2 linked regions of the Homo sapiens genome follow. The protein of the gene in region 2 interacts with the protein of the main gene of each other region in a pairwise test. Each region holds a gene or a part of one and is shown on either strand. Other genes may lie near its edges. The genes, in order: MAGEA12 and MTFR2.

What was found.
Region 1: the proteins of MTFR2 (region 2) and MAGEA12 interact in binary tests that used the Homo sapiens proteins (3 or more experiments, as listed by UniProt).

The regions. Positions count from the first base shown.
Region 1 is NC_000023.11:152,732,112-152,736,027, reverse strand, and holds the start of MAGEA12 (melanoma-associated antigen 12), read right to left. Parts: upstream 2,272-3,916; 5' UTR 2,169-2,271; intron 2,167-2,168; exon of another isoform or gene 1,994-2,166; intron 881-1,993; 5' UTR 775-880; intron 1-774. Other genes in the region: CSAG1 (chondrosarcoma-associated gene 1 protein), read left to right, coding at 3,568-3,583. UniProt on the Homo sapiens protein: Not known, though may play a role tumor transformation or progression. In vitro promotes cell viability in melanoma cell lines.
Region 2 is NC_000006.12:136,247,970-136,251,885, forward strand, and holds the start of MTFR2 (mitochondrial fission regulator 2), read right to left. Parts: upstream 2,343-3,916; 5' UTR 2,007-2,342; intron 1,185-2,006; 5' UTR 1,131-1,184; coding exon 1,068-1,130; intron 1-1,067. UniProt on the Homo sapiens protein: May play a role in mitochondrial aerobic respiration essentially in the testis. Can also promote mitochondrial fission.

The sequences.
Region 1 (3,916 bases), on a different chromosome or scaffold from region 2:
AAGGAATGACAGTAGGGAGGGTGAGGCCAGGCGCTCTGGAGTCCCATGTGTTCTGGGGCCGGTGCGGCCCTTGGTGTGCATTCAAGGCAAACCTTCAGTGTTGGCACTGTCTGCACCCCCTCTGCTCTGTGACCTCAGGACACTGCCTCAGACCAAGGCCTCACTGCCTTGTTCTTGGAACTCCTGATTCCTGGGAGAGGAATCCATGGGCCTCAGGGTGCAGACTGCAAGTACAGCCACAGATTCCCAAAATTGTCAGGAGGGTCGGCCAGACTCTGTGAGGTCCCCACTCTACTGGGGTGGAGGGTCCCTTCTGTGCTCACTCAGGGCCCTCACCTTTCTCCTTGCAGGGCCTAATACCGCCCTTTTGCTGGCCAAAGAAACTCTCATGGCAAGAATTCACATCCCTGATACGGTACAGAAGGACATGAGGGGACCAACATCTGGCCATACATAACCAGATCCTCCCACAAAGGACAATGAGAGATGTCCAAATTCATTGGAGTCCAGGTGTCCTGGGTGACGAGCCTGCTTGGTCCTCACCACTACTCCTGCTAGGGCCTGAGAGCCTCCCTCTACTGACCTGAGTGCAGCCCCTTCAGACCAAGGCCTCCCTTTCCCTGACATCAAAGATCCCAGGATAATGGAGGGACCTCAGCAGGTAGCCTTGCCCAGGCTCTCTGAGGGAATAGCAGGGGCAGGGCAGATTTCTGTGGGGCCCTCTGTCAGCGTTCTGGCCCAGGGGTACCCTCAATCCTACCTCAGGCTTCTCACCTGGATGCTTGGTAGATCTTAGGACCACTGTGTCTGTCGACTACATGGGGGCCCCTGTGTTGACCTGAGTCACCCTCTGAAGAAAAGGTCCTCAACTCCCTGAGATCTGGAAACAGAAGTGAGGAGGAGCCACATCCTGTCACTCCCAGGTAGGTTGTCCAGGGCTGACCCCTTTGGTTCTAGGGTGAGGCTTCTGATGGCCTCCTGTGGGTTACTCATCTTTACTCCTGCCAGGGACTGCCCTTCCTCAACCCCCAACCCCCTGAAATGAGCAGACAGCTCCTCTTTACACCAACACCTTATCTCCCTGAGGGTTCCCCAACCTCTTGCCTGTGGTACAAATGACATTGCCAATTGGAGCTATCTCTGATCGGGTTCCCTTAGAGCTAAGAATAAGGGACAGCCAGACTCTGTGGCATCCCTTCTTTCTGGGCCGGGGGTATCCCCAGTCCTCATGAAGGGGGCACACCTTGGGTCCGGCAGATCCTGGGATTCCTCCCTCTGCTGACCTGAAGTGCCACTCCTCAGACCACAGCCCGCAAATCTGTCACCCTGAAGTCGCAATGAGCATGGGGCACATTAGGCCACTGTGCCCAGGATCCCCCAGCCCAAGGTTGCCACTGATCTGGACTCCAAGGTCCCCTCAGTCCTCCCTCTTCTTCCTCCCCTTGACTCCTCGCAGGGCTGGGCTCCAACTCCCTGCTGAAGTGGGTCTGTATCCCTAGGATTCCCGCGGCCGAATGAAAAGGTGGCTCAGTTTGAGACAGGGGTACTTTGGGCCCCTGTCCTGGCATGCTGGGAGCCCTCCGGACTCCATTATCTTCCAGGAGGGGCTTGGGCCCATCCTCTGCTTCCCAAAGGCCGTACTCACGATACCGACCCCCTTCCCTCCCTGAGCCACAGATGTGAACGTCAGGATCCGCGTGCTTGGCCGCCATTCCCGGAGCTTCCGTGGGTTGATTGCAGGGGCAAAGCTCCGATTCTGCCAGGATGGGTGGGGATGGGAATCGGGGTTTGGGGGTCCCGTTGATGTTTGAGCGATGGTGGTGGGTTTGGTGTTGGGGGATGGGGGTGGGGTTGGTGTTGGGGGATGGGAATGGTGGTGGGGGTGCGGGGGGTTACCCTCAGTCCCCTCTTGGGGTCCTGACCTTGATTCCTGGCTGAGTCTGGGCCCTGAGCACTTCTAACCAGCCCTGCCCTGGTCACACAAAGCTCTTACACCAGAGTTCCCTGCGGTTAAAGCGGCGGGGGGTGGCGGGGTGAGGTGGTGGCGACTCAGCCTGAGAAGTCTTCCCCTGCAGGGTGGTCCAGGCCCGGCAGCAGAGGCAGCGCTGGATTATTGGGGGCCCTCTGTCTGGGGTGAGGCCCGCCTCAGTCCTCCCTCGGCATCTTACCTTGCCTCCTCACGGAGCCTGCGCCTGCTTCCCTCCACCGACGTCAGGCCGTTGCTCAGGGCGAGAATCTCGCTGTTCTCTGACCTCCAACGCGCAAGTCAGTGGCGTCACATCCGGCCCCGTGACTTCCCTGGGTTCACAGCAGGGGTGGAACTGGATTCTTCCTGGATGGGGATCCAGATGGAGGTGGAGGTAAGCATGAAGATGGTGTTGGGGGTAGGGGTAGGGATAGGGACGGGGATCCTGAGGCTGTAGATCCTGGTGGGGTTGGGGGAGTTGGGGGTGGGAGGGGCCTTTGGTCATCCCTCAAGGTCCTGACTTGGATGCCAGGCTGAGCCTGGACCGCCATCCTCTGCCGATTGTGTCTGCTCCCCTCAGACCAAGTCTCTGACTCTGAGTCCCCCTGAAGTGGCACTGGGGGAGGGGTGTGGTCGGGGTGACATTATTGCCTAAGTTTACCAGGGCTGACAAGAGGGACTGAGCTGGATTCTGTGGTCCCACTACGTGGGGGAGGGTGGACCCTCAGTCCTCACTCAAGAGGGTCCTCTTCCTCACTCCTGGCTGTTGGATGAAGTGATTGGCAGGAGATACTCTGTTTCTGTAACGTCTGTGCATTTGCACAGCTGCACCCCTTGTAGAGAATGGCTGCGGGTCCCAGGCCAGGAGCTCCCTGCAGGGCGGGAGCTCCCACGATCGTATTGACCTCTGGAAGAAGACAGACACTTTCCCACGGGAGCTCCTCTCCAGCCAGAGCTACACTTGGCAAACCTTTGGTCCTAAATGATTTATTCACTGAATTGAAGAAATACGGTTTACATATCTTCCAAGTATATATGTAGGTAGCGATATATATATTTATTTCTACGAACTAACACCTACCCTTAGTATGCATCGTTCACTCTTACTATCCTAATCTACTTCTATTCCAGTCTTTGTGTTCTGTTGAAGGAATTTTTTTTTAAACGTAATTCCTCTCCCACTATGTTGGTTTCAGGTTGTTATTAGCAGAACTCTGGAGCCATGCTGCCTTAACAAACCCAATTTTCCTGGTGTCCTGCTATTACCTAGGGCTCTTGGCATCGTGTTTTCAGGAGCTGCCTCAGATTGTGCAATGAAGTGAAGTGGAAATTTTAAAACTTTTATTCTACCCATTCTGTTATCTGCCGTCTAGGCAGGCTACAAACCTCCCCAACATCCCTGCCGCTAACCCCCTCTAACCGACACGGCAAGTGTCACACACAAGTACCAGCTCAACAAGGTCTTCAGTCTCACCCTGGACTGGCCCTGTTTTGTTGTGTAGATTTTCTTGCTAATACTGGTTTTTTACTTTCTGTTTCCATTCTATAAATTTACAGGGTTGATTTGGGAAGCAGAGCACAGCAGCCCAAATTTGCTTGTAATGTCGGCGACTACAGGTAAGGCACTAAATTGTAAATAATTTAAGCTGAGTTTACATTTTTACACTGTTGTGTTCCCCATGAATGAATATGTTATACTCCTCTATGTATGTCAAGCTATTTTTTCCTGAATATGTCAGTATACTTCGATAGTTGCCTCTATAAGCAGCTTATACATTTTTATTAGACTTCTATTCAGGTAATTCTTGGATTTTATTGCTATTGCAAATGGCATATTGTCTATTAATTGCTGTAGTTAGTTATTGCTTTCGTGAGGTGAAGATTTTGATTTTGCTGTAGTAATCTGTTGCACACCTCATTCTGAAGGCCGATGCACTTGAATATTCCACA
Region 2 (3,916 bases):
CATCACCTCTGACTCACCTCATCTCCATATTCAAACTAGTTTCTCATACTAAGATGCCCATTTATAATAATGGTACTATGATTCTTCAACTTACTTTTGCTTTAAAAAAATCTTAAATTATCCTTGACTACTTTCTTCTAATTCACCCCACCCGTCTTCCTTACAATCTCATATTACAGTTATCTTTATTGTTTCTTATTCCTCATATTTTAAGCATTATGAATACAACCATGTATTACTCCTCTGTATTACCTGCAGAAACAAGCATATTGTCTTAGATACAGCAGATTTTCAACAAGTAGATAAAATTTGATTTGCTTATGATATGGTTTGGCTGTGTCCCCACCCAAATCTCACCTTGAATTGTAATTATCCTCACGTGTCAAGGGTGGGGCCAGGTGAAGATAACTGAATCATGGGGGCAGCTTCTCCCATACTATGCTCGTGGTAGTGAATAAGTCTCATGAGATGTGATGGTTTTATAAACAGGAGTTCCCCTGCACAAGCTCTCTTGCCTGCCACCATGTAAAATGTGACTTTGCTACTCATTTGCCTTCAGCAATGATTGTGAGGCCTCCCCAGCCATGTGGAACTGTGAGTCAATTAAACCTCTTTCCTTTATAAATTACCCAGTCTCCGGTATGTCTTTATTAGCAGCATGAGAACAGACTAATACAGCTTATAATTCTCAGGCCTAAATCATCCTCTTTCCATTAGATTTATTCTGGATTTATTGAGCTTTAAATATTGAACTTGTTTATAAATTACCTTGAATAGAAGTTTTAATGTATCTGTGCAATAAATGTAATTCTGTGAAGCTCATGTCTATATTTTGCTTCCTTTGTATCTTCTGTTGGCATTTGTCCTATCAGGTAAATATGTTCTCAATAATCTTATCCCTCTTCTAACTCAAATCATCAAAGCTATACTATTACAAACTCACCTTTGTTCCAACTAAAAAGAAGCAACAACTTTGCCTTAAATCAAATGATTACATATAAGTCATTTTCAAAATGAAACCCAAGAACAAATACAACAGATCCATTCCAATCCAAAACGACATTTACCTGTTCTACAGGAACGCCAAAATATTCCAGCATCTCTCTTAAGATATTCAGTATGAGAGACATTGATGAAGCAAATACAGAAGCCAATTCAAAGGAACATTATCAGTTTCTTGGTGCCTTTGGGGAAAATTTTAGAAAATGTTACTCTTGACAAATAAATGCCAAATTGTACTACATAACCTGGAAAAGTCCTCTTGATACACGACACAGTCAACTAATTTCTCCTAGCCAGCATTCTTTTAAGTCAGAGAAAAAGAAAGGAAGGGGAAGTCTGGGGGAAAGAGAGGGTTGTAAAGGAAATTTCAATTAATTGGTTAGATTACATTAAAACCTCGTAGGATGTTTGAGCCTAGTTAATAGAGACCAATCAACAAACTGGACATCTACTTAGTAGGCAAGGCTTCAAGTTACATGCCACAGCGAAGCTCGCTCTTTCCTGAAAGCTTTGGGCTGAGACTCTTAGCAGATGGGTGAGTTTAGCCAACCCTTGAAAGCAGGCAAGGGACGACTCAGTTTTTAAAAAAATAAACAGTAGCTCTTCTCACACACATATCCTCACGTGTCAAGGGTGGGGCCAGGTGAAGATAACTGAATCATGGGGGCAGCTTCCCCCATACTATGCTCGTGGTAGTGAATAAGTCTCATGAGATGTGATGGTTTTATCAACAGGAGTTCCCCTGCACAAGCCCTCTTGCCTGCCACCATGTAAAATGTGACTTTGCTACTCATTTGCCTTCAGCAATGATTGTGAGGCCTCCCCAGCCATGTGGAATGCCCATCCCTCCTCACTCTTTTAAAATGAGAAGCATGAATTCCAGATACGGGACGTGACTTGGTCACCCATCTAGTAACAGGCCGTGACCAGAGCCGGATCGCGTCCCTCGCTTTGGTCACAAGCTTCCTGGTGCTCTCCAAACACAGCGTGGTAGCCTTGCTCACCTTCCTCCGAAGCCGAGCCCCCGGGAATCACCAGAACATCAAGCGGAGGGCGTTAGGAATCCTCAATCAAATTCCAGACTGCGCCACTCCTTGTGCAGATCGCTCAGACGTCTACCCAGACCTCGACCCAGTTTCCACCCGCGCGCCTCGGCTTGCAGCCACAGGCGGTAACGATGCCCTCAGCGAGGAATAAGAGGTCAACCCGGTGCCCAGCCCTGGAGCCTCACGCTCAGCCAGGGTAATGTTATGGGAAGCGCGCCCCCGTCCTCCTGCGCCCAACCAACCCACCTGCTAGTCCCTAGGACCGGACTGCTACTTCCGCATGACAGGACTGCTACTTCCGCATCCCAGGACGAAATCAAACTCCGCGGGCCAGGACCCGTAACCAGCCTCATTGGGCAAAACTGAAGATCGCTGCTTCTGATTGGTCATTGCATGATGTCAGGCAATTCGGGAAGCGACTGCTTTTCCTTCTCAAGAGGCGGGTCTTCCGAGAGTCAGCCAATAGGAGCTGACGGGCAGGGCAGGTCGCGTTAGGACAGCGTCGCTCCCGCAGGGCAAGGTTTTAGGTACAAACTCGTGAGCTGGACTCGCAGTCCGGAGTTCGTACCCCACAGAACTCTTCGCAGGGAGTGTCTTACTCGCTACAGCCGGACCCTAAGCGCATCCGCCTTCCCAAGTTCATCTGACACAAAATCGCGATTTATTTTTTGGTCATTTCATTTGTTCAGCTAATATTAAAATACTTGTGGAACTGGCAGAAGCCAAGCACTACCCCCGAGGGTTTTGCAGCTTTGCAGTGGCTAGGATTCATTCTTTCGTTCACTAAATACACCTACGTATCCAGGCTACCGAATATTGGGCCGGACACTCTCCTGGCTTAGCCGAGGATGGCAAGTGATATGACAGGTGATATCCCAGTTTTCATTTCTGATTTGAGGTTATTGGCTTCATACGAAATAGCTTCCTCTTCTGAATTTCAGCAAGACGTGCACTGGAGTGATATAACAATTTAAGATGTGTGCCTGCTACTGACATAATTTGAAAATCTAAGTTTTGAACTAATTTATCTATGGTCAACATCACTTATTCATTCAACCAATAATAGATATCTACTACGTAGCAGACACCATTCTAAGCACGGAAAATACCTTAATGAGAGGGCAGGTCCTCGTCCTCCTGGAGCTTACAGGCCAGCGGGGCATCTCGTTCCATTCTAACCCTAATTTGCTTTTCTCTATAGCACTTATCATATATATTTAGTTACGCTTCCACTACCACCAAACAAAATTGTAGACTCCAGGAGAACAGGAAGTTGTTTTGATCCATGCTCTATCTTTCCCCAGTGCTTTAGAAGAGTGTCTGGTATATAATAGGCATTCAGTCTATTTGTTGAATAAAATACCTAAATGTGGAATGACAGAAAAGATGATAATGATTTGGGACTAAGCAACTAGCAAAACAATTGATAGCAATAATAGTGATATGCCCAGTAGAGCTGGATACGGCTGAGTGAGCGCAGAACAAGGATGATGATGGATCAGAAACCCTAGATGGAGTAATTTTCTCAAGTTCCTTGTCCTTCCCTTTGCCCTTGTGAATAAATCACGACTTTATAACCCCCTCCCTTTCCCACTCTCTTATCAAACAGCAAACAGACAGGGCCAGAATGAAAACATCCCTCCAGAATGAGAACGGAACCACTACTCTTCCAGCTGCACTATTAACATAGGTTAATATTCCAACTGATTTAAGTAGCAAGGAGGACCCAGGTCAAATACTACATCCATAAATGCTTTGCTGACAACTTTCTTCTAAATTCTTCAGAGATATTTCTTCCAGTTTACTAAAGCATTCATAATTCCATTTTGACAAAAACATTTTATGTGATTGGACATCTTTTTCCATTG